Homo sapiens: one gene and its partners. The protein of the gene in region 7 interacts with the protein of the main gene of each other region in a pairwise test. Each region holds a gene or a part of one and is shown on either strand. Other genes may lie near its edges.

Region 1 (4,016 bases), on a different chromosome or scaffold from region 7:
TGCGCAGCTGCGCGAAAAGAAAAACAATGGCGATAGGAAAATGCTCTGAAGACTCTAGTGTTTATGGGAGAAAAATGCAATGGAGGAAAAACTAAATTTGTAGTGGTAACTCGGTCCCAGACTCTTACACAGGCTCACTTCATCACAGGAAAGGCTATCTATCTCCTCCGCTAGCCGGCTGCTGACCGAGCTGGGGTCTGGGCAAGATCATTTCGCTCTTTTTCTTCTATACAAATAAGGCAAGGAGATAAGATATGTGTGTGTGCGTGTGTGTGTTTTACATATATATTTCCATCTAATTAAAGCAAAATCCTATGATTCTGTTAAAGGCCTTTAAGAAATAGACTCCTAGATCTTCTTAGTTTCAGAAGTTTAGCTTTTTAAATGGAAACAAAAATCATTTAAAAATAATCTTTTAACCAAATTTGTCTTTATACACTAAATAATGAAATAAAGTTTATACCACAAAGAGTCTGTTTAAACAAACACACCTTCCAATCTTAATCAAAATTAAGGTACCCTGAATACCTCCCTCCGCCGCTTCCCCGCCCCGCAGTCAGAACTTGAGGCAGAAGACAAGGCTGCTCGGGCTTACATTTTGTCTAGGAGATGAAAGAGCAATACTCATTAGCAACATACTTTTGTCTTTCTTGTAGCCTTGATTTCAAATCTAGTCGCAAATCATAAGCTTTTGTGTTGCTCAGATGTTCCTTCTTTATCTTAATGAGAAAACTTTTCGGAAAGGGAGCGCGAACTGCTAGATAAGTCAGCTCCCAGGCTGCCAGGAGCGGTGGCATTCCTCGGCTACACCGGACAGCTGCGAGTTTCAAGAGAATGACTAAAACTTTCAAGTCACCCAGACCTCCACTTCCCCTTCTGCTTGCTGCAGAAAGAGATGTAACCTGAATCTTTGTTTAGGTTTGGGTTGGGGAGCGAGAATTTAAAAGTTATGGCAAATGCAGACAGCAGATTTTTTAAAGTCAAGTTAACAGGACATCCCCCAATTTTTTTTTCTTTAGTACTAAACCTGAAGTCAGTTGGCGTGTTCTGATAAAGATTTTAACATGTAGAGAAGGCGGGTTTTCCTGAAAGAGGCGAAGCAATTTCTCCAGGAAAGACTTTCCCCCACACGCCCCCTTCCTTTATATTAGGTTCCACCCTCTGGAAAACAAAACTTTTTTTTTTTTCTTTTCCTGGAGGGACTCAGGAAAAGCTCAGTGCTCACTTCACTCAGAGCTCAGTGAAGCTGGGAAAGGAATTTTAAGAACGGTTCATCAGAAAGTGGTCAGGCCACAGCGGCCTCTTTGGACGAAGACACACTTGTAGCATTATCCTTCTCGGCATCAGCTTTTATTAGTGGATCGGGGCGGGGGAGGGGGGAGATCGGCAGACACGGACAGCCTCTGACCCTCTGGAGTTGGTATGTGATAAGCAGCCCTAGCAGTGCCATGTATTGGAAGAACGATCAGATGTTTGTGTGTAAACTAGTAGCAAAGGACGTGCCGGAGCTGGCAGTTCCCCCTGAGAAGGTGAGCGAGCCGACGCCTGGCCAGACCAGCTGAATCGCAGTGTCCTTGAAACTCGAGTTGTTTGGGCTCCTAAACAAGGTTCAGAAACTACCTGTAACGGCCTCATCTTCAGACCTGGCAATTTTTTTTTTTTATTACGTAGTAGCGTTAGTCAGTAATCATTGCACTCCCTCCCCAAAAGCTCACTTAACCTGAGACATGGAGACTGTAATTTGGGAGATGAAGCCTCGAGCCTAAGGCGCTCTCAGGTCCATGTGAGTCGTGCTTTTGTTCTATTTGCTGTGGTGATCGTGGCGGTCCGGGAGAGTGGGTCGGGAGGACTGGGCGGCTGTCGGGTGGAACCGGAGACCTGGCTCGTTTCGTTCGGCTGCCCGCGGACACTTGCCTGCCCTGAGGCACACCTCCCTCTGCGGGGCTCCAGAAAGGCCTCCGGGATCCCTGGGCTTGCCGGGAGAGCCATTTTACCTAAAATGCCAAAAGAAAACCGCAGGGCACAAAACGAGTCACGCGGTTTGTCTGAGTAGACTGGGGAAGCTGACAAGCTCTCACCTCACTCGGGAGGCAGGACCTGTGGGTATTTGGTGTTTTAAGTTTGAAATCATCTGCAGCCTGTCTGAGGGCCTCAGCAGGACGCGCGCGGGGCGCCCCTGACTATTTCTTTGCTCCGAAGCCGGTTGGGGACACCAGGCGAAAGCGGAGCTGTTCTGTTTAAACGCCCTTTGTGTGTGAGGACGCGGCCTCAGTGCAGCTACGCTGGGTCCCGCGTAGGGAGCGCACCCCAGAAAGGGAGGGTCTCGGCCGACGGTCCGGGAGGCCCCCAGGTTGGTATCTTGCCTGGTGCTTCCAGAGGGAGGGAGAAGGGGAGGCGAACAGTCAGAAATGCAGAAGTGCGAGCCGCTCGAGTTCGGGGTACCCACCCGCCCCCGAGCTAGAGTTTTTGGAAACGAAAGCGGTCTAAGCCCAGGGACGCTGCGTTTTCGTTTAAGAACAAAACTCCAGCAAATACTTGGAAACACTTGAGTAACGCGCGTTGTTTCTTTAAAACATTTTGTCAGAGGTTGGGTGAGTTCTTTTAATGGCACAAATTAAATTCAGCTGGATATTTTCCATTATTCTACCCGCTTTTTGCGCTGGTTAAAAATAATCCTTTAGTAGCTCAAATGTTGACTTACTGAGCAATAAGTGGCAATTTACACCTTAAAGAAACGAGTGTAAATCACTCGCCACTCTAATTGCTGTAAGTTTACGAAAGAGCTGCTGGCTCGGTTTAATCTGAAGCATTTTCATTCAAATTGTCATCGGAACAAACACCAGGCTTCTTAAATCCCGCTGTAATTAGCTTTCAAGTATCCTATTAAACCTCTTCACCTTTCGGGCTATCCTATTCAAAAAGCCCCCTTTTTAAAATATATATGTGTCTTGCTCTTTTAATTGAGGTTATTAAAGAAATCTAGTTTCTTCTCCCACCCCCTCCTCAATCCTCTTTTCTTCTCTCGCACTCCACCTCCCACTGCCCCGCACCCCCTTTAGCCCGGTGTTCCCCGCTCCGCTATGATTGACGTCTGGAAAGAAAGAGCTTTGTGAGGGGATGATTGTTATTAACTTGTTATCCCCGGCGGGGGGGCGGGGAACCGACGTGCCCGGGTGAGCGCCGGAGACCCGGAGCCCGGGGAGCGCGGGACGAGCTACCAGCGCTCGGGTGGCGGCCGCCAGCGGCCAGCGAAGGAGGCTGCGCGCCAGCCCGCCCGCGGCGCCCGGGCTCAGGCGCCGTGACGGCTGCACGCGCTGCCCCGCACTCTGAGGGCCTTCATTAGCTCGCTCCCCGCGCCGAGGCTGGGGCGGGCAGCACGCTCGGAACTTCTGATCTGTTTCTCCATACTTTCTCCCCCTCCTACTCCGCAGTGTCAGGGGCTCATGTCAGAGGAGTGCGGGCGGACTACAGCCCTGGCGGCCGGGAGGACTCGCAAAGGCGCCGGGGAAGAGGGACTGGTGAGTGCGGAGGGGCTCGCGTGCTGGCAAGACTGGCCGTGGGGAGGCGGCGCAGGACGAAGGGCCGCTGTCCCCGCGCTCCTTCCAGGGCCCAGCTGGCCCCTCCTGCAGCAGACAGAGGACGGGGCGGAGAGGGTCTGGGTGGGGTGGGAAGCTTAGCTGGCCCGCGAGGAGGGCAGGGCCGCAAGACTTCTGGGGTCCGAATAGGTCAGGGGTCGGCAGCCCCAGCGGGTGCGTAGCCAGAGCTTGGACTCGGGGAAGAGGGCGAGAATCGTGACCTCAAGAAGCTGGGGGTGGGGTGGGGTGGCCAGGGGGAAGGGAGGGGAGGCGGTGGGGGCGCCCTTGTGGGTAGGTGGGATGCGAAGGGGAGGAGGGGTCTAGAACCGCCTGCGCCTCGCGGTTTCCTGCAGGTGAGCCCCGAGGGAGCGGGGGACGAGGACTCGTGCTCCTCCTCGGCCCCGCTGTCCCCGTCGTCCTCGCCCCGGTCCATGGCCTCGG
Region 2 (3,500 bases), on a different chromosome or scaffold from region 7:
AAAATAGAAATAAAAAAGTCAATACTTGGAAGCCAAGCTAAAAAATTAAAAGTTAAAATAAAAAAACTGAACAGAGGCCTACAGGGTGGCTCACGCCTGTAATCCCAGCACTTTGGGAGGCCGAGACGGGCAGATTACGAGGTCAGGAGATCGAGACCATCCTGGCTAACATGGTGAAACCCTGTCTCTACTAAAAAAATAGAAAAAAATTAGCCAGGCATGGTGGCGGGCACCTGTAGTCCCAGCTACTCGGGAGGCTGAGGCAGGAGAATGGTGTGAAACCGGGAAGTGGAGCTTGCAGTGAGCCGAGATTGCGCCATTGCACTCCAGCCTGGGCGACAGAGCGAGACTCCGTCTCAAAAAAAAGAAAAGAATAACTAGGATATGGAACTCTCAGGAAAATAAATTAAAACTCAGAGTTGCTAGATTATCTAAAAGTCAATATTCAACAAAAAGATAAGAGACATGCAAAGAAACATGAAAGTGTGACCTACACTCAAGACAAAAAACCCTGTCAATAAAACTGACTCTCAGTGATCCCAGATACTGGATTTATAAATATGCTCAAAGAACGATAGGAAATTAAGTTAAAAGGTTAAATGAAAATATACTAATACTTAATCAACAAGAGAATCTCAAGAGAAACTGAAACTATGAAATAAGGAACCAAATAGAAATTCCAGAGTTGAAAATGCAAAAACTGAAATGAAATACATATTAGAGGGGCTAAGTGGCAGAGTCACAACAGGAGTCAATGAACTAGAATATATAGATACCCATATAGAGAAATTATCCAATCCAAAGCACAGAGAGAAAATTGAAGAAAAATGAACAAAGCTTCAGAGACTTGTGAAAAGATGAATGTCAAGCATTCCACCATATATGTAATGGAAATCCCAGAAAGCAGGGAGAGACAAAAGGGAACAGAAAAAAAAAACCATGAAGAAATAACAGATGAAATACTTCCAAATTTGGTGAAAAACTTGAATCTACATACCCAAGAAGTTAAATGGACCTCAAGTAGGATTAAGAAAGAACTTGGATACATCCCAGTCAAACTAACACCAGAAGACAAAAAGAAAACCTTAAAACCAGCAAGACAAAACTGACTCATATACATGATACAAAAATAATTTCCTCTGACTTTCCATCAAAAATAATAGAGGCCAGAGGGCACAGGGATGGCGTATTTGAAGTACTGAAAGAAAACTCTGTCAATCAAGAATTCTATATCCCAGGTAGGGCCGGGCACAGTGGCTCACGCCTGTAATCCCAGTACTTTGGGAGGCCAAGGCGTGTGGATCACCTGAGGCCAGGAGTTTGAGACCAGCCTGAACTACATGACGAAACCCTGTCTCTACTAAAAAGACAAAATTAGCCGGGCGTGGTGGTGCACACCTGTAGTCCCAACTACTTGGGAGGCTGAGGCAGGAGAATTGCTTGAACCTGGAAGGTGGAGGATGCAGTGAGCTGAGATCTCACCACTGCACTCCAGCCTGGGCAACAAGAATAAAGCTCTGTCACAAAAAAAAAAAAAAATTCTATATCCTGGGTAAACGAAGATTGAGGGAATCCACTGTCAGCAGAACTGTACTGCAAGAAATATTAAAGGAAACCGTCTGGCTGGAAAAACATGACACTGGATGATAACTCAGATCCACAGGAAGGAATGAAGAGCAACAGAAGTGATAAATATCTGGGTAAATACATATTTTTCTTTTCTTCCCTTACCTTCTTTAAACATGAGACTGCTTAAAGCAGTAATTATAACACTAGATTATTGGCTTTAAACATGTAGCTATAATATATTTGACAATAGTATCACACAGGAAGAGAGTGAAAGTAGAAGTATGCTGGTGCAAAGTGGCTGTGTATATATATATATTTTTTGAGATGGAGTCTCGCTCTGTCGCCCAGGCTGGAGTGCAGCGGTGCGATCTTGGCTCACTGCAAGCTCCGCCTCCCAGGTTCACGCCATTCTCCTGCCTCAGCCTCCCAAGTAGCTGGGACTACAGGTGCCCGCCACTACGCCCAGCTAATTTTTTTGTATTTTTAGTAGAGACGGGGTTTCACCGTGTTAGCCGGGATGGTTTCGATCTCCTGACCTCGTGATCTGCCCGTCTCGGCCTCCCAAAGTGCTGGGATTACAGGCGTCAGCCACCGCGCCCAGCCAAAATGGCTGTATTTTTACCAGAATTAAGTCAGTATTAATTTGTAATAGATTATGATTAGGTACAGATGCAACCCCTTTTATGAAAGCTAAAAAAAAGAAAAATCAGGGGCCGGGTGTGGTGGCTCACTCCTGTAATCCTAGCACTTTGGGAAGCCGAAGCAGGTGGATCACCTGAGGTTGGGAGCTTGAGATCAATCTGACCAACATGGAGAAACCCTGTCTCTACTAAAAATACAAAATTAGCCAGGCATGGTGGTGCATGCCTGTAATCCCAGCTACTTAGGAGGCTGAGGCAGGAGAATCGCTTGAACCCAAGAGGCGGAGGTTGCAGTGAGCAGAGATCCTGCCATTGCACTCCAGCCTAGACAACAAGAGCGAAAACTCCATCTCAAAAAAAAAAAAAAAAAAAAGAAAAAGAAAAAGAAAAAGAAAAAGAAAAAGAAAAATCAGAAGAATGACAGTGGTTTTCTGAAATGTTTGTTTGACTTTAAGAAGGCAACAAAGAAGAAATAGGGCTAGGCACAGTGGCTCACGCCTGTAATTCTAGCACTTTGAGAGGCTTAGGTGGACAGATCACCTAAGGTCAGAAGTTTAAGACAAGACTGGCCAACACAGAGAAATCCTGTCTCTACTAAAAGTACAAAAATTAGCTGGGTGTGATGGCGCGTGCCTGTGGTCCCAGCTACTCAGGAAGCTGAGACAGGAGAATTGCTTGAACCCAGGAGGCAAAGGTTGCAGTGAGCAGAAGTTGCAGTGAGATCATGCCACTGCACTTCAGCCAGGGCAATGGAGCAAGACTGTCTCAAAAAAAAAAAAAAAAAGACAAAATAGGCCAGGCATGGTAGCTAAGGCCTATAATCCCAGCACCTTGGGAGGCCAAGGCAGGAGGATTGCCTGAGCTCAGGAGTTCGAGACCAGCCTGGGCAACATAGTGAGACCTTATCTCTACTACAAAAAAAAAAGTTAGCTGGGCGTGGCGGCATGTACTTTTAGTTCCAGCTACTCAGGAGGCTGACGTGGGAGGATCACTTGAGCCCAGGAGGTTGAGGCTGCAGTGAACTATGATCATGCTATCACACTCCAGCCTGGGGAACAGAGTGAGACCTTGTCAATCAATCAATTCATTCATTCATTCATTCATTCAAAAAGACTAAAATTATACAAAGTATATTCTCTGAACACAATAAAATTAATTAAAAATTAACAACAGAAAGATATCAAAAAAACCCCAAATATTTAGAAATCAAACAACCACAAGGAAAATTAAAAATGATGCCAAGTTTAATGAAGCTGAAAACACAACATAAAAAAAGTATGATATCCTGAG
Region 3 (2,362 bases), on a different chromosome or scaffold from region 7:
CCAATCACAGCTTTGCTTGGATTACACAAGATTGCTTCTAAGGAATAAATAGATGCCTTTATAGTATGTTACCTCAGTGACTTGAGCCACATTGTCCTGATTAAACTAATAGGATGATGGATTCTTAAGAGTAGTATTTTTCAGCTTGGAAAAAATGTTGCCTTGTGATTGACAAAAAAATTGCTTGCCTTTTTAAAATGTAATTCAAGCCATCAAAACAATTTTAAATATTATAACCAAAAACATGTCAAGACAATAAATAGTAACTGCAGAATATTTGTTCAAACTGCATATTTCTCTGTCACCTGCTTCTTTCCCTCCCAGGAGAAAATTACAACTTTGGGGTGATTTTGTCATTTTTCTATCCCTAGTCATCAGCCCTTGACCCTGACTCAGATTGCATGTGGTTTTGTGGGTACCTCTTCACAGTCAACAATGAGTGGTTGGGTCTGTGGGAATAAAGATGCATCACCAATATAGGGACATATCCATGACAACTGTAAAAGCCACCCATCACTTTATTGTCCTACTTTTTTATTAACTTTGAACAATGAAAAGCCTTGAAAGAATGGTTGAGAACAGCAAATTGCTGCTTTCAAATTAATTCAGCCTAAAAATCTATTGATGTTATTTTATTGCGTCGTAAATAAGGAGTAGGTAAAACATTTTGTGCTTTAATAAGTGAGGCACAGCTTAAAAGTTTTAAACAGCAATATAAAAATACAGTACAGTGCATAAATAAATAATATATCTCCACTTCTAGTCGAATTTTGAAACCCTCAGTGTAAATTATAACTTCACTTGAATGGGAGGCACAAGGTACATGTGCTAATGTTCTGTAAATCCAGAAAATCATATCACATAAGATTCAATAAGGAATTAAAGAAATCAAATTAATCACACTTGTGTTAACTAAATAAGAATAGGTCAGATACCTGTTTCCAAGTTATGCTGGGTATATAAAAAGCTTCTCTGCAATCATAGAAAAGTTTGAAAAGGTTCATTGATGAAAGCACCTTGCATTTCAGATGAACTTCAATATTTTGGGGCTTTTTTATATAAGAGCTTTAACAAGTATATATGCACCTGTATATTTGAATAGATATTGATGAAAGGGGCCATACAGGCCTCAGAGTAGTGCACCATCAGAAATATTTTAGGGGATACAGTGTCTTTTAAATTTGAATATTCAAGTATTTAAGTTCTACAAAGTTATATGATACCTCCTGGATGTTTCCTAGAAGTTCTCATATTCATAGTTAGAAACAGGCTTTTTTAAAAAGGAAATGCCGAGTTTCTCAAATCAAATTTCACATAACTTAGAGCTCTATTTCTGTTTTTTTTTTTAATTTTTTTTTTGTTGTTTGTTTTTTGTTGTTTGTTTTTAACATAGCAGGACTTCTTTGGTGATATTTTTTAATATTGGAGAAAACCTTAAAGAGCCTTAAGATTGCTAACTAGAAATTCAAGAGAGGCTTCACATACGTTTTTACGTTGCTGCTCACTTTTCAGGGGGAAGGTTTGTTGGTCTGATAGCTCAAATCTGTATTTCAGAAAATAAAAATTACATTCTTTTCAGCCTACCTCCATATGCATTTTGTAGGGTGGGGTAGAGTTAGAGAATGCTTTTTCTAGCACAAGATTTAGATTAGCTCTGTGTGTACTCACATTGGAGCCACTAGGAATCCTGAGAAAGAGGAGTGGACATACTCAGAGGAGTATAGGCCATTTGACTCGGCATTGGGAAGCTGGAGCCACACCTGGTCATTTTCTGTGAGATCGATGATGGCACTCCCTGAAGCCTGATCCAGGTAGCCTTTGGTGTATTCATCATAGGTGTACATTACAGGGGTGCCATTCTTATACAGGCCTACCCAAACATGAGTCCCTTTCACATGCACGTGGTATGAAAAATAGTATATTCCTGGTATCTGACAAGTAAAGATTCCAGTCCTTGGGTCATAATGCTGTTGCCTGTTATACAAAATTTTATCAAATGGTATGGGAGTTCCTATTGCTGGGTAAGCTTTGGAGAGAATAACAGTAAAAGCAGACACAGGCATTCCTGTTACCCCCTGGTTGGCACTAACAAGAGGGGTCCCAGAAAGACTGGGCCTTTGGCCTGCCTTTATAAAACCCTCAGGCATGACTGCTTGACCTGGTGGGCCTGGAGGCCCAGGGGGCCCTGGAAGACCAGGCTCTCCAGAGTGGCCTCTTGGACCTGGAGGCCCTGGTGGCCCGGTGGGTCCATTGAGGCCCTTAGTTGCTATGCCAGCTGGGCCAGGAGGACCGGGACTTCCTGGATCCCCTTTAGACCCAGGGAATCCTGGAATGCCTGGTGGCCCAATAGGGCCTCTAGTAC
Region 4 (3,500 bases), on a different chromosome or scaffold from region 7:
ACTTCTCAAAAGAAGACATTTATGCAGCCAAAAAACACATGAAAAAATGCTCATCATCACTGGCCATCAGAGAAATGCAAATCAAAACCACAATGAGATACCATCTCACACCAGTTAGAATGGCGATCATTAAAAAGTCAGGAAACAAAAGGTGCTGGAGAGGATGTGGAGAAACAGGAATACTTTTACACTGTTGGTGGGAGTGTAAACTAGTTCAACCATTGTGGAAGACAGTGTGGCGATTTTTTTTTTTTTTTTTTTGAGACAGTCTCGCTGTGTCTCCCAAGCTGGAGTGCAGTGGTGCGATCTCAGCTCACTACAAGCTCCACCTCCCAACTTCATGCCATTCTCCTGCCTCAGCCTCTCGAGTAGCTGGGACTACAGGCACCCACCACCACATCCGGCTAATTTTTTTTGTATTTTTTTAGTAGAGACGGGTTTTCACTGTGTTAGCCAGGATGGTCTCCATCTCCTGACCTCGTGATTCACCTGCCTGGGCCTCCCAAAGTGCTGGGATTACAGGTGTGAGCCACCACGCCTGGCCTGGACTGTTCTTTTCATGGCAAAGCTCCTAGAAGAGAGAAAACAAACTCTAAATAAATAATAGCTATCATTACAATAAGCTGTAGCTAGTTTGATTAACAAATCATCCTAAAATATCCAGACAATATGAAAACATTATTCCTAAAATACTGGTCCCTCATATGCAGCAAGAAAGAAAGAATGAAAGTGATCTATAACAGATTACAACAAATCACACTGTAAAAGAATTCTCATGGTGGTCGGGGTTTGTAGCATGAAAAGATGGTTTCTTTCCTTTACAATGAAAAGAATTAATGAGTTTTTTTTTTTTAAGAAAAAAAACCTCTAGAAATAACTGACATTTGAAATACTTTACACAAAATAAATTGTCAATTTTGTTGTTACTGCCCACAAATACGGGAACCCTTAGCCTCCAATCAATGAAGCTAGAGTGTCTAGTTGCAACATATCATAGCTTTCAAGATTTCTCAAAACAGAGAACAGATTTTCATAAGTATATCTGAAAAAAGCTTCTACAGAAATGTGAGTCTCAGAGAATCCCCCAAGAGGAAATGTCTCACATACACACATAAATAGACAACCTAAAAAAGCACTACGTCTTTTCAAAGAGATGTTAATAGAATAAAATGTAAATTTATCTTAAATAACTAAAAAGCTAGTATAAAATCAACATTTGAGATTCCCAGAATATTTATAATATTTCCAATACAAACCGGTTAGCTTTACAAATAAGTGAGAATCCAACTAAATTAAAATTCAAATATGACTGAAATGTACCCATGTTATCCAAGAAAAATCAATAACCTTCCAATTCCTGAAGCTGGTACTTTATCTGTGAAGCAGTGTTGTATCATAGCTAGACAGATCACATCTCAGGCCAAGGTCCACACTAGCTACTTTCCAGCTGTGTGACCCTGGCTAAATAAACTCTCAGCTTCATTTTTTTTTCTTTTTTTTATTCTATTTTATTGAGATGGGGTCTCGCTATGTTACCCAGGCTGGCCTCAAACTCCCAAGCTCAAGTGATCCTCCTGCCTCAGCCTCCCACAGTGCTGGGATTACAGATGTGAGCCACCACACCTGGGCAGCTTCACTTTTCTTAAATGGAGATAACAGCTCTTCCATCAGGTCATGGGAAGACTAACTCAAATCATATCAGGATTCAGCTCATCTCATGCCTAAAACATATGAAAGCCGATGTATTACCTTTTCACGGGATCTCCCCGTTCTCACCCTCATGCACTCTACAGCTCTGGCCAAAGCCTTCCGCAGGTCATGATTGTTTTTTCTTAGACCTCAATCAGGGTTTCTCCTTCATCCTTTCAAGGTAAAGGGTGAGTCATCTTCCACCTACAGTAGCCATCTTACCACCACATTCAAACATTTAAATCCTTCAATTCCTTTCAAGGCCCAGGAGAAACTTAAATCCTCTCAAGCCCAACACAAACACTACCTCCTCCATGAAGCCCCCTAATTCCTTCAGGTCAATGTTTCTCAGCCCTGGCTCTACCCAATCATGGAGAGAATTTTAAAAAAAAATTAAACAAAATTATCTGAAGCCTGGGCCTTAGCACTGCTGTTGGTCTGAGGTGTGGCCCAAGCATCAGGGATGAAGTGACCTCTCCTTGCACTGAGACCCCACAACGCTTCAGCAGCCCTTTGTACAGGATGGTAGAAAAGTTATTGCTGTTTTCACCCTTAAAAGTAACGGTCAAAACTGCAGCTACTTTCACCAACCTAATACCTTATTTTAATCATATACAAATGCATTTAAAGTATAAACTTCTGGAAAACAGGATCAGTGTTTGATTTATATATCGCCCTCAAGTTACCACAACAACAGTAACTTAAATTGCTAGGCTGCCAGCTATCTCTTGAATGCACAGGTAAATAAATAACATTTCAGTGCCTCTGGAATATAGGATTCAAAGTCATGATTTGAAACAAAAGGTTATCAGTACCTGAATAAATAATCTCCATTTCAACAGCTCAGCTGTTAAGTTCTACTTATATAACTCAGCCAATGCATAAGGGAAGAAATGATTTATTCCAGACAGAGAGAAAACATCACTAAAATAAAGCTAGTACAGGGCTAAACACTTCAGTGGTCCCTCCCTTCCCACCTCCTACCATTCTAAAACACTTAAGAGTTCTCTAAATAGATCAAGCACCCTTCTTCCTCCATGCTTGGATATACACTGCAATCTTTAACCACATTCCTCATCTGGCTTTTACTTCTCATTCTGGAAACACCTTCTACGATGGAAAGCCTTCCCATAGGTGAAACTCCTGGTTCAATATTCCTCTTCCCTATTCCTTTAGCGTTTACTAATATTACTCATATCGCAGCAACTGTCAAAAAGAAATTATTGGCCAAGTGCCACGACTCACAGCTATAATCTGAGCTCTTTGGGAAGCCAAGACAGGAGAGGCACTGAGGAGTTTGAGACCACCCTGGACATCATAGTGAAATCTCATCTCTACAAAAAAAAAAAAAAACACTTAAAAATCTGCCAGGCATGGTGGCATGAGCCTATAGGCCTAGCTACTCAGGAGGCTGAGGCAGGAAAATCACTTCAGCACGGGAGTTTGAAGTTACAACGAGATATGATAGCACTACTGCACTCCAGCTTAGTAAACAGAGACCCTGTCTCTATAAAATAAATTATTGTTTCGCTTATCTAGTCACCTACAAGTTTCTTAGGGGTGGGGAAGCTCTCATCACTGTGACTATATCATCTTATATAATATATGGTACTTATGGGCCGGGCGCGGTGGCTCACGCCTGTAATCCCCACACTTTGGGAGGCCAAGGCAGCTGGATCACCTGAGGTCAGGAGTTCAAGAAAAGCCTGGACAACATGGTGAAACTCCATCTCTACTAAAAATACAAAAAATTAGCCGGACGAGATTGCACCATTGCACTCCAGCCTGAGAAACAAGAGTGAAACTCTGTC
Region 5 (3,500 bases), on a different chromosome or scaffold from region 7:
TAGTACAGACATCATCACAAACCTTGTTGACTCAGTGCTCAGGGTCTGCAGGCAGAATGCTGGCCACTTTCCACACACCTTTCATGTGACCTGAATGCCAACCTAAGACACAGTGTTATCATCTCCATTTCACAGATGAGAAAATGGGGACTCAGCAGGTTAAAGCTCTTTGTCCAGGGTCACAGCTAGTATGTGAAAGAGCCCAGATTCGAATCCAGGCTTGTGTGCCTCCAAAGCCCATGATGTGTGCCAGGAGTTGCCCCTGCTCTCTGTGCCTGTTAGGGCCTCTACCCTGGATTTGCAAAGCCCATCACTTTATTTCAGGACTTCATTTCCTTCAAAACACATCATGCAGGTGTGGCTTTTTCAAATTATGCCTGAGCTGTTTATCTATGAATGCCAAAAGCAGCAGCTCTGCAAAGGACCATGACAGCCCCCTCAACGCAGGCCCAGGGAGCCCCCCTCTGCCAAAGGCTGGCTGCTGCACCCAGCAGGTCATTCTGCGGTCACCTGCTAGCTGTGAGAAGTCATGTGCCGGGAGAGGTGGTGGCGCTCCCGGAAGTGCTCCTGGCACACAGGGCAGGCAAGGGCCTCTTCTCTCCGCTTCTGAGAATGTGGGTCAGGCCCCGCATGCTCCTTTTTGTGGTGGGATCGCATGTGAAAGACCAGGTCGGACGTTAGGCGAAAGGACAGGTTGCACTTTGCACACCAGTTCTGGGTGGACAAGCCCAGGGAGGTGAGGGTGGGTGGCAGGAGGGCCCACGAAGTGGTGGAGGATGATGAGGGTGGGGGCACCTGGGCCTGGGTATGCTCCAGCCACAGTGTAGGGGCACCCAGAAAAGTGCTACAGAGTGGAGCATTCTGTGGCAATGCTTGCAAGTTCCACAAATCACCAACCAAAAGCTTGGGAGTTGAAAGTCGACCCCAACAAGCGAGGTCTGTAGTGTTGAGGAGTCCAGACAGCTCCCCCAGGGCATCTGCAGATTCCCCTGCAGGGAAGACTGAGGTTAGCTCAGGCCTCTCTGCTGGTCGCTTGGTTGGTTTGCTAAAGGCGCTTCTTTGCTCACTTCGTGCTCCGCTGGGCCACACAGAGAAGACTTTGCTGCCAGCTGGGCCTCTGGGGATGTTCTGGGTCAGCTGTGGGGCACCAGGTTGGCCTGTGGGGTCATCGTGCTCCCTCTCCTGGGCCTGAGCATCCACCTGCCGGTCCTTCATCCTCGGCAGCTCCGTGAAGGCGCTCTGCCTCTGCTCTCCACGTGTCTTCGGGGGCAGCGGCTTGCCAGGTCGGGGCTTGCCTGGGGCTACCAACAGTGCCAGCTCCGCACTGCCCACATCCCGGCCCGCCCTGCCCACAGCAGCCTCAGGGCCCAGGCGGTTCGTCTTCTCGAGCAGCACTGGCTTGCAGCCCCGGCCCAGCTCAGGTTCGCTAAGTCGCCATCTGTTTTCAGCCGATGGGCTCAACGGGGCTCCCTTCCCAGCTGCCATGGTGATCACCAGGGCCGGGGCCACAGATAAGCAAGGTGGCCACTCTGGCATTCATCAGTCTTTGGGGGTTTGGGGTTCTGGAGGGCTTGGCCCAGCAAGGAGCCATGAGATATGGAAGCTCCCCATGACACTGGGCTGGACACACTCGGCCACAGGGCCCTGCAGAGAGAGGAAGCGACAGGCAGTGAGATGGGCATTCATCACTCAGGCACAGTGCATCATGAGCTGGCATCAGACAGGACCCTGATGCTCAGGCCTCCTCCGCTGTCTGTGGGATGGGTGTGCTGACTGCACCACCTCTCAGGAGACAAGGAGCATGGATGGCACCATCCTCCAGGGCCCACCTCCCTGAGGCAGAGTAGGGACTGAGGTCTCTGCTGAAAATGCCCATGGGCAGCAGCCTCTACAGCTCAGTAGAGAGAAACGTAGGATTCCCCTGTCAAAAGTGGTTCCTGGGGATTAACCAGGCATGAAATGGAGAGTCTGCAGGGGAAGGGAAAGAGCCTGCTCTGGGGGCTGCATTAGGGCCTTGGGGGCCCTTCAGAAGTTTCTGGGTCATCTGTCAACAAGTAGACTCCATCATGAGGAAGCCATGCACCCTCAGCCCCTGCTCCATGCTCGAGCTACCTCTGGCCCTGGCTGAGTGCTGAGGGCACAGGGAGGCCGCAGCATGAGGGTCGCAGTGTTGGAGGACCATGGACTTCATGGTCTTTGCTCCTCATGCAGCCCTCTCTGTCCCGACCCTAATTTCAACCCATTGCTCCTCGGTCTACCAGACCTGCCTCCCAGCCTGGTGGCCCCTTTGTCCACATCACATGCCCTGTCAGCTTCTGCGCGGTCTCTGATTTTCTCAGAGCCATGCTTCTTGTGAGAGTCAAGTGTCCCCACTCTTCCCCCAACTCCCAAGTACATGTGGGCAGCTTCATTCCCATCGTACCTGTGAACTCATTCCAAAATGCACCTCAGGCACAGTCTCCCCTTGAGGCTTGCCCAGTGCTCTCAGACACAGACAACACTCCCTCCTCCATGCCCTCACTGTCCTGGGCACCAAAGGCCTGCATGCACCACGTGCAACATTATATTTACTTGTTTGTGGTCTGCTAGAAGGCAAACTCTAAGAACCCAAATATGTCAATTCACCTTCACATCTGTAGTACTTAATCAAGCCTGCAACAGGACAGGAGCTCAGGAAGCCTTTGCTGAATGAATGAATGAATGAATGAATGACAGGACAGCAACTGTTAGAAAGAAGTCAACTTCCTCCTCCCAAAGAGTGTGGAGACCTGCTCCTGCACAGAGAGGAGAATGTGAGCCCTCCATATTCCCATAGGGCCAAGGGAGGAGACATCCGCATGGTGAGAAGGGCGAGGAGCCTACTGCAGCCTGCCTCTGAGCTTCTCCACCTCCTGCTCCTTCCCTGTGCTCCTTGCTGGGCACTTGGCCCCTGCCCAGTCCATAGCTCAGGCGCAGGTGGGGAAACCACTAGCTGTAGCAGAAGGGTATGCTTTGCTTTCCAACTCTGATGTAAAATCAAACTATGAAGCTCCACCAAGGGCGTCCAACCTATTCCCATTTCCTCATCTCCCCTTGGTTCCAACCCCAGTGAGAACCCACCCAGCTTTTCCTTAGGGAAATAGCCCACCAGCCTGTATTCTGAGAGCTCTCTAAGAATACAGCTGATTGGCCTGTGGGTGCCAAGAGTCACCTTAAGGGTGGAGGTCACACAAGGGCCTGGAACTCTGAAAGTACTCTCCCTCAGGCGCTGGACTAACAACAGTCTGACCATGGCTGGAAGAGGCAGGCTGAAGGGTCAGATCTGCCTAACAGGAGAGGGAAATGAGGCATGGTTTATAGTGGTGAAAGCAACAAGCAAGTAAATGCGTAACTCCAGAGACATGGTGAACAAAGCAGGATGCATACGCAAGACGAAGCACTGTGCAGCCTCGGACAGTGATGCTCGCTATGCTTATGAACGAATGCTGAGGAGGCAAAAGGACAAAAAGATTATAGATTTG
Region 6 (3,500 bases), on a different chromosome or scaffold from region 7:
TGAAGTAGATGAGGAGGAAGGATGGGTGGGGATTTGAATCTTTCCTCAGATCGAAACGCATACATTTCTTGACCATAAGGCCCTGGGGGTGAGCTGGAAAGGTCTGAAAGATATTTATACAAATATGAGAAAGAGTTGGAGAATTAGCAAGAATGCATGGAAAAAGCTATCAATACATGGCAGCTAACATTAAATATGGTAGAAGTCCTGGATCACAAACTTGTGACCTGTGGGATCTACAGCTGTAAGGTAACCAGAGGAAAAATCTGAGTCCCCTGGACATAAACCATGAAGCTCCTCAACATAGCAACATGATTTGGGAGACAGACAAAGATATAAAGACTCAAAGACCCAGGCTCAGGGAAGAGCTACTACATGTATCAGCTGTAGGACCTTGGAAGAATCCCTCCACAATGGTCAGTTTCTTTATAAAATAAAAATAATCTTTGCCCTATTTCATGATGTTTTTAAGGAAATCAAATTAGATAATGGATGTAAAGATGCCTTGTAACTTTCAAACAATGGGAAAAGATTAGATTTTTTCTTTTTTCCAGCCAAACAACAAGGTTATAAACTCCTAAGACTACCAATACAACAATGATTGCAACAATAAGGACAAAATGTATGTAACTGTCATTAGGGAAATGCAAATCAAAACCACAATAAGCTACCATTTCATACTCACTAGGACAGCTAAAATCAAACAGACAGACAGTAATAAGTGTCAACAAAGGAATGGAGAAATTGGAACGCTCACACTATTCCCACTGCTAGAGGGAATGTAAAGTAGTCCAGCCACTTTGGAAAACAGTTTGGCAGTTCCTCAAATAGTTAAACATAAAGTTACCACATGACCCAGCATTATACACTGGGTATATACCCAAAAGAAATGAAAACATATGTCTACACAAAAACTTGTACACCAGTGTTCATAATAGCATTATTTATAATAGCCAAAAAGTGGAAACAATCAAGATGTCTATCAACTACTGAATGGATAAACAAACAGTATGTCCACACAATGGGCTCTTATTCAGCCATAAAAAAGAGCGAAGTACTGATACATGGTTAGAACATGGATGAACCCTGAAAACATTATGCTAAGTGAAAGACGCCAGTCACAAAAGACCACATATTGTAGGATTCCACTGATATGAAATGTCCAGAACAGGCAAATCCTTAAGACAGCAAGACTTGTGGTTGCCAGGGACGGAGGGGAGGAGGGAATGGGATGTGACTGCTAATGGGTACAGGGTTTATTCTGCGGGTGATAAAAATGCTCTGGAATTAGATAGTTGTGATAATCACATAACTCTGAATATACTAAAAATTACTGAGTTGTACAATTTAAGAGTTAATTTTATGATGTATAAATTACATCTCAAAAAAATGAAAAAAAGTATGCAGACAAGAATACAATATACAAAAATGAAGAGAAATATATTATAATATATTTTATTTAAATGTTATTGTTTCTTTTTTGAGAGAGGGTCTTGCTCTGTGTCACCGAGTCTGGAGTGCAGTGGCTTGATCACGGCTCACTACAGCCTTGACCTCCTGGGCTCAAGTGATCCTCCCACCTCAGCCTTCAGAGTAGTTGGTACTAAAGGCACATGCTACCATGCCCAGCTAATTTTTTGATTTTTTTTGTAGAGACAGGGTCTCACTATGTTGCCCAGGCTGGTCTCAAACTCCTGGACTCAAGTGATCCTCCCACTTCGGCCTCCCAAAGTGCTAGGATTACAGGTGTGAGCCACCAAATTCATTGTAAGAACTAAGTTCCAGTGTTCCGTTGCACAGTAGAGTGAATATAGGTAACAATAATGTAACAAAATAAAATAGCTAGAAGAAAGGATTTTGAATGTTATCACCACGAAGAAACGACAAATGTTTGAGATGAATATGCTAATTGCCCTGACTCGATCATTACACATATAAAATGTATTGAAACATCACATTGTATCTCATAAATATGTACAATTGTTATGTGTCAATTAAAAATAAAAAATACATATAAGGCAAAAGAAAAAAGCAGAAGTAATACTCTGATATTAAATAATATCTTTAAAACATATGGAACTTGAAACCTTACAAAGTATTATGCTTTGTTATTTCGTCACATGATCCACAAAATACCCTTGGGAAGTGCACAGAATAGTTTTTATTGCCTTTTCACCAGAAAAAAATAAATACAAATTGGTTATTTGCCTAAAGTTACATACATGGATAGACAGTAAATGAGTGCAGACTAAAATCCATTATCTGTAGATTCCTAGTAAAAAATGGATTATAAGCGTTACCTCAATAGATTGGGAAATTAGGAGAAAGGGAAATATCAAAAGTATGCAAGTCTTCTCTCTATATAATTATGATACATGTCTATTTATTGGTTACTTTGCCAGAATTATATAATGCAAAAATTAGTCACAAGTATCCTCATAATCTAATTCAGCATTTTAAAACCCTTTTAAATTACTGTCCCACCAGTCAAAAATAATGCCCAATTTAACCTTCTGAGCTTATATGATGAAAACAACATTTTCAAAAGTTTCCTCAACAGATGATTACACTATTAATAATAGTCTCGCTCTGTCGCCCAGGCTGGAGTGCAGTGGCGAGATCTCAGCTCACTGCAAGCTCCGCCTCCCGGGTTCACGTCATTCTCCTGCCTCAGCCTCCCGAGTAGCTGGGACTACAGGCGCCTGCCACCACACCCAGCTAATTTTTCGTATTTTTTAGTAGAGATGAGGTTTCACCGTGTTAGCCAGGATGGTCTTGATCTCCTGACCTCGTCATCCACCCGCCTCGGTCTCCCAAAGTGCTGGGATTACAGGCCTGAGCCAGTGTGCCCAGCCAATAATTTCTTTTAAAAACAGCAAAGCCACCCTTCTCCCCTGAAATTCAAATATGTTCCACTTAAGGTATTGTGCCTCCTCAGCTGAGAATCACTGAAAGTTTAAGTCCCTGGTTTTACTGTGAAGAAACTCAGAACGAAAAAGGTTGAGAGATTTGTTCATGATGGCAAAACTAGTTAGTAGCAGAGGCAGGCTTTGAACTCACAGGAGAGAAGTGTGCTCACTGGGAATACTGTGCACAATTCTTTAGATAGTTCTTATTGTAAAGTAACAAAATGGTAACTACAAGTGTGGTTAGCAAAATATTCTCTGATACTATAGCAATTGTAAGCAGAGATGAAGGCCTTGGCTCAAATAATATTAGAGGAAATAAAAGTGTAAAGATATTTTCCGCTACCATAGACTTTTTTTTTTTTAACCAAAAATTTACAAAATTTCAATTACCTACAACAGAATTGTCAGGGGGCAGGGGGGTGGTTGTCTTGTTTTTGAGGCAGTATCTCACTCTGCTGCCCAGGCTGGAGTGAGGAGGCTCAAACATGCTTCACAGCAGCCTCGACCTCCTGGGCTCAAGCAATCCTCACGCCTCAGCCTCCCAAATTGTTGGGACCACAGGCATGTGCCATTACGCTCGGCTAATTTTTA
Region 7 (3,500 bases):
GGTGGGTCCCTGAGCAGAGTGCTGCCGCTGCCAGTCTGCGTTTTCTGCCGAAATGCGTCCCTGAGATTGAGAAAGTTCACACCCTAAGTGTTTTTAGAAGGCTGGGTGCCCTGTTTCCCAGCCAACAGTTGTGACTGTCAGTGGGCAAACACAGTTTGCAATAATTGGCCTGTTGTCTTACAATTTCTGGCTCTCCTCTTTGTGGTGTAGGTCATGTTAGGTGGTGGTCCTTGGTCGTTTGTGCCACGTTCCCTCATGTTCTTGAACTCTGAGTCCCTAGAAACTGACATTGGTCTTATTTTGAGTGCATTATTTTTCAAACTTTGGGTCTGAACCCACATCAATTGAGTGGGCCATGGCCAGTGTTAAGAATACTGGATAAAATGGAGCATGCCTTGGATAAAAGGAGCATGGTTCGGAGTGGCTAACGGGTAGGTATCGACTCAGGAAACTTGCAGTGATGAGTGTATGAACTTACCATCGTAGGCCCCAGTCGAGAGCGTGGAAACCACTCTTCTGTGATGTGTGTCTACTAGCGGGTGGTTATGCACAGCATTTGACTGAATTTGGGTAACTCTGGATGTAGTGTATAAAGTACTTTTTAAAAGGCCATCCACTGGGCCAGGCATGGTGGCCCAAAGCTCCCAGCGCTTTGGGAAGCGGAAACTGGAGGATCACTCGAGCCCGGGAATTGGAGGCTGCAGGGCTGCAGTGAGCCATGATTGCACCACTGCACTCCAGCCTGGGCGGCAGAGTGAGACCCTGTCTCAAGAAAAAACAAGCAAAAACTATTCCCGTTAAGCCGCTTGCTTAGGGGTGACTGTGATTGAACATGTGGCTTCTCATCCAAGTTGATTTTAATCTCTATGGAGATCAGACTAATAACCTCACAGTAGAAAATCCACCAGTGAGCTCAGCGGCACAAACTCACAGCCCAGCAGTGTTTGCAGAGGGGAAGGCCCAGAATGCGTGGAGGCTTCGGGATCCATCCTTTGCAGACATAGAGAATTCTCATGGGGGAGGGAGGACCTTGCGGCGCCTTGGCAGTGAGGGGAGCAACCTCAGCATGATGTTGGCACGTACACTGGGGACTGGGTGGTGACACCGTGCATGCCCACAGGGGTGGAGATCTTTGTGGAGTTCACTGATGGATCCCAGAGGCCCAGGACGGGATGGCACGCTTTTCTGTGAGGGTCAGAGTGTAAGTGTTTCTGGCCTTGTGGGGCGTGGGATGTCTCGTGCCACTGTGAAGCCGCTCGACTCTGCTGTTGGGCTGAGAAGCAGGCACCTTGTTTGTGGACGCTGACATTTGAGTTTTATGTAATTTTCTCATCATGAAATATTGTTCTTTTGTTATTTTTCTGTTTTAAAATGTAAAACCCATTCCTGGCTCACAGGCTGCATAGAAGCAGGTGGAGAGCTGGGCTGGGTTGTGGGCCCTCACGTGCCACCCCCTGACCTAGAGTGTGTTTGCCCTGGGAAGGAATAAGACGAGGTTGTGTAGAGAGGCAGTGGCTGGATGGGGAGAGGCCTGGGCCCTGCACAGAGGAGCTGAGGTGTGAGGCTGCTTGCGAGGGAGGCGGCTGACCAGGCTTGGTACTAGCAGGCTCTCCGGGGAGGAGGCCCCCTGGAGGAACAGCGCTGGCGTCAGCCACAGAAGGGCTTAGCGGCCATGGTCTTCCTGCTGCAGCCCGTGTGGTTTTGGGAGGGACACATGGAGCATTGGAGGACAAAGAGACGGCCAGATCGGAGTGTGTGTGGCAGAGGGGCGATGCCACCCTTCGGAGCGATGGGTGCCAGGGTACTCGGTGAGAGCCCAGGTCCCGGGTGAGGGGGTGGGCTGAGGGGGAGTCAGAGAGGGAGGAGCCTCGGGATGCGGAAGGGCGAGAGCAGGGCGATGAGGGTGGGGCCGCAGGGAGGTGGCCGGGACTCCTGGTAGTATTCTTGGGGAGAAAGATAACAGGGAAGTGAGGAGGGTTCAGCTGTGGAAGTGCTGGGATGGCTGATCCGAGTGACCATGGCCTAGACGGGGTTTAAACCCTGGACTGAAGAAAGTGCCGGTGAGAGGTCAAGGCAGGAGATGGAGACCTGGGGGTGACAGGTGTCCCCGGCACCTCCTACCCCCACCCTGGGAGACAGTCCCAAGGGGCACCTTCACTGGGGGCTGGCCCTCATGCACACCAGCCAAACCTCCTGCCCACCTTCTGGGGGCTTCTGGAGCAGAGCAGAGGCCCCGCGGACCGTGAGGATGGCCACAGGGAGGGGAGATGCGAAACACTGGCCGTGGCAGGTGCCCACGCAGTCAGGAGCTTGCTTGTGGGGCTCTTGTCTGACACCTGGGAGATGAATTTCAGTCTGATGGTGGATCTGGACCCAGATGGCTTGCTTGGGATTCAGCAGCTCTTGGGAAGAGCCACACTTGAGGATGGGCTTGGGTGAGGGTTTGGAACGTGCTTAAAGAGGTTGGCAGGCAAGGATTTGGTGGTAGCAGGTGGGGCACATCGTGTATTGGCAGGGTTTTGTTATTTTTATCCTAAAGACATACTTATTTGCAAACCTTCTATTTTGGAACATTTTGAGATGTATACATATGTGGCAGAGATAGCATAGGGAGTGCCCTTGTGCCTGGTACCCAGTTTCTCCCGTTGCTAACAAGACGCATGACAGCAGTTCATGGCACAGTGTTGGGTGTGCCCCGGCCAACTCAGCAGATGAGCTGTTTCACAAAATCAGTGATTCTGCTCTGATAAAATGGCAAGTCCACGGAAAGCACTTTCATTGTATTTTGAAGTTGGGTGGTTGTTGAGGGATTATTTGAGTTGTAGTTGAACTAGCTGCTCTTTTCATGGAACACTATAAAAAAATAATTTACAGATTACTGACATCTCTTACTAAATGAGTGAAGTTAGCCTCTCACCTCAAAGAAGTCAGCTAACAGTGTTTGTTGCCAGTGATAAAGTTTGAGCTGTCAAGTGAAGTTGGAGTTTTGGAAAGTTTGTCTTTGCCACCGTGAGCCCGAGAGCTCCCAATAAATCAGATGCCAGTGCTAATGCTGATGAACCGTATGCTTTTGATATTATAGACTGAACAACATTTGCAAGAGCTGCCTAACTCGGTGAAGCAACATTTTCCAGATGGTCGATGCGGGATCACGCCTGGGTAAAAGATCCATTTAGAGTACAAGTCAAGCCAATGGATCTTAAAGCCATAAAGTGCAGAAGCTCATGGATACAGTTCACATTCCATATTGCAAACAGCCTTTAAGGAAAAATAAAACACACTTGTTGCGTGTTGGTGTGGTGTCAAAGAGGAATCTCCATAATTATCTGAAGAGCCTATTAAGATACTTTTCCCTTGTCTAACTGCATCTCCTTGTAAGGCTGCATTTTATTTTATTTTTTCGTACTTTTTGTAGAGACAGGGTTTTGCTGTGTTGCCCGGGTTGGTCTCGAACTCCTGGACTCACAGAATCTGCACCCCCCCGGGCCTCCCAAAGTGCT

Evidence for each region.
Region 1: the proteins of BANP (region 7) and LHX8 interact in binary tests that used the Homo sapiens proteins (3 or more experiments, as listed by UniProt).
Region 2: the proteins of BANP (region 7) and SETDB1 interact in binary tests that used the Homo sapiens proteins (3 or more experiments, as listed by UniProt).
Region 3: the proteins of BANP (region 7) and COL10A1 interact in binary tests that used the Homo sapiens proteins (3 or more experiments, as listed by UniProt).
Region 4: the proteins of BANP (region 7) and FARS2 interact in binary tests that used the Homo sapiens proteins (3 or more experiments, as listed by UniProt).
Region 5: the proteins of BANP (region 7) and ZNF488 interact in binary tests that used the Homo sapiens proteins (3 or more experiments, as listed by UniProt).
Region 6: the proteins of BANP (region 7) and PRKAB2 interact in binary tests that used the Homo sapiens proteins (3 or more experiments, as listed by UniProt).

The regions. Positions count from the first base shown.
Region 1 is NC_000001.11:75,133,172-75,137,187, forward strand, and holds the start of LHX8 (LIM/homeobox protein Lhx8), read left to right. Parts: upstream 1-1,216; 5' UTR 1,217-1,783; intron 1,784-3,211; exon of another isoform or gene 3,212-3,431; coding exon of another isoform or gene 3,432-3,443; coding exon 3,444-3,518; intron 3,519-3,928; coding exon 3,929-4,016. UniProt on the Homo sapiens protein: Transcription factor involved in differentiation of certain neurons and mesenchymal cells.
Region 2 is NC_000001.11:150,932,863-150,936,362, reverse strand, and holds part of SETDB1 (histone-lysine N-methyltransferase SETDB1), read right to left. Parts: intron 1-3,500. UniProt on the Homo sapiens protein: Histone methyltransferase that specifically trimethylates 'Lys-9' of histone H3. H3 'Lys-9' trimethylation represents a specific tag for epigenetic transcriptional repression by recruiting HP1 (CBX1, CBX3 and/or CBX5) proteins to methylated histones.
Region 3 is NC_000006.12:116,118,409-116,120,770, forward strand, and holds the end of COL10A1 (collagen alpha-1(X) chain precursor), read right to left. Parts: coding exon 1,665-2,362; 3' UTR 501-1,664; downstream 1-500.
Region 4 is NC_000006.12:5,264,513-5,268,012, reverse strand, and holds part of FARS2 (phenylalanine--tRNA ligase, mitochondrial), read right to left. Parts: intron 3,024-3,500; exon of another isoform or gene 2,935-3,023; intron 572-2,934; exon of another isoform or gene 490-571; intron 1-489. UniProt on the Homo sapiens protein: Is responsible for the charging of tRNA(Phe) with phenylalanine in mitochondrial translation.
Region 5 is NC_000010.11:47,367,294-47,370,793, forward strand, and holds part of ZNF488 (zinc finger protein 488), read right to left. Parts: intron 1,645-3,500; 5' UTR 1,537-1,644; coding exon 514-1,536; 3' UTR 1-513. UniProt on the Homo sapiens protein: Transcriptional repressor. Plays a role in oligodendrocyte differentiation, together with OLIG2. Mediates Notch signaling-activated formation of oligodendrocyte precursors.
Region 6 is NC_000001.11:147,162,471-147,165,970, forward strand, and holds part of PRKAB2 (5'-AMP-activated protein kinase subunit beta-2), read right to left. Parts: intron 104-3,500; coding exon 1-103. UniProt on the Homo sapiens protein: Non-catalytic subunit of AMP-activated protein kinase (AMPK), an energy sensor protein kinase that plays a key role in regulating cellular energy metabolism.
Region 7 is NC_000016.10:87,957,934-87,961,433, forward strand, and holds part of BANP (protein BANP), read left to right. Parts: intron 1-1,937; exon of another isoform or gene 1,938-2,060; intron 2,061-3,500. UniProt on the Homo sapiens protein: Controls V(D)J recombination during T-cell development by repressing T-cell receptor (TCR) beta enhancer function. Binds to scaffold/matrix attachment region beta (S/MARbeta), an ATC-rich DNA sequence located upstream of the TCR beta enhancer.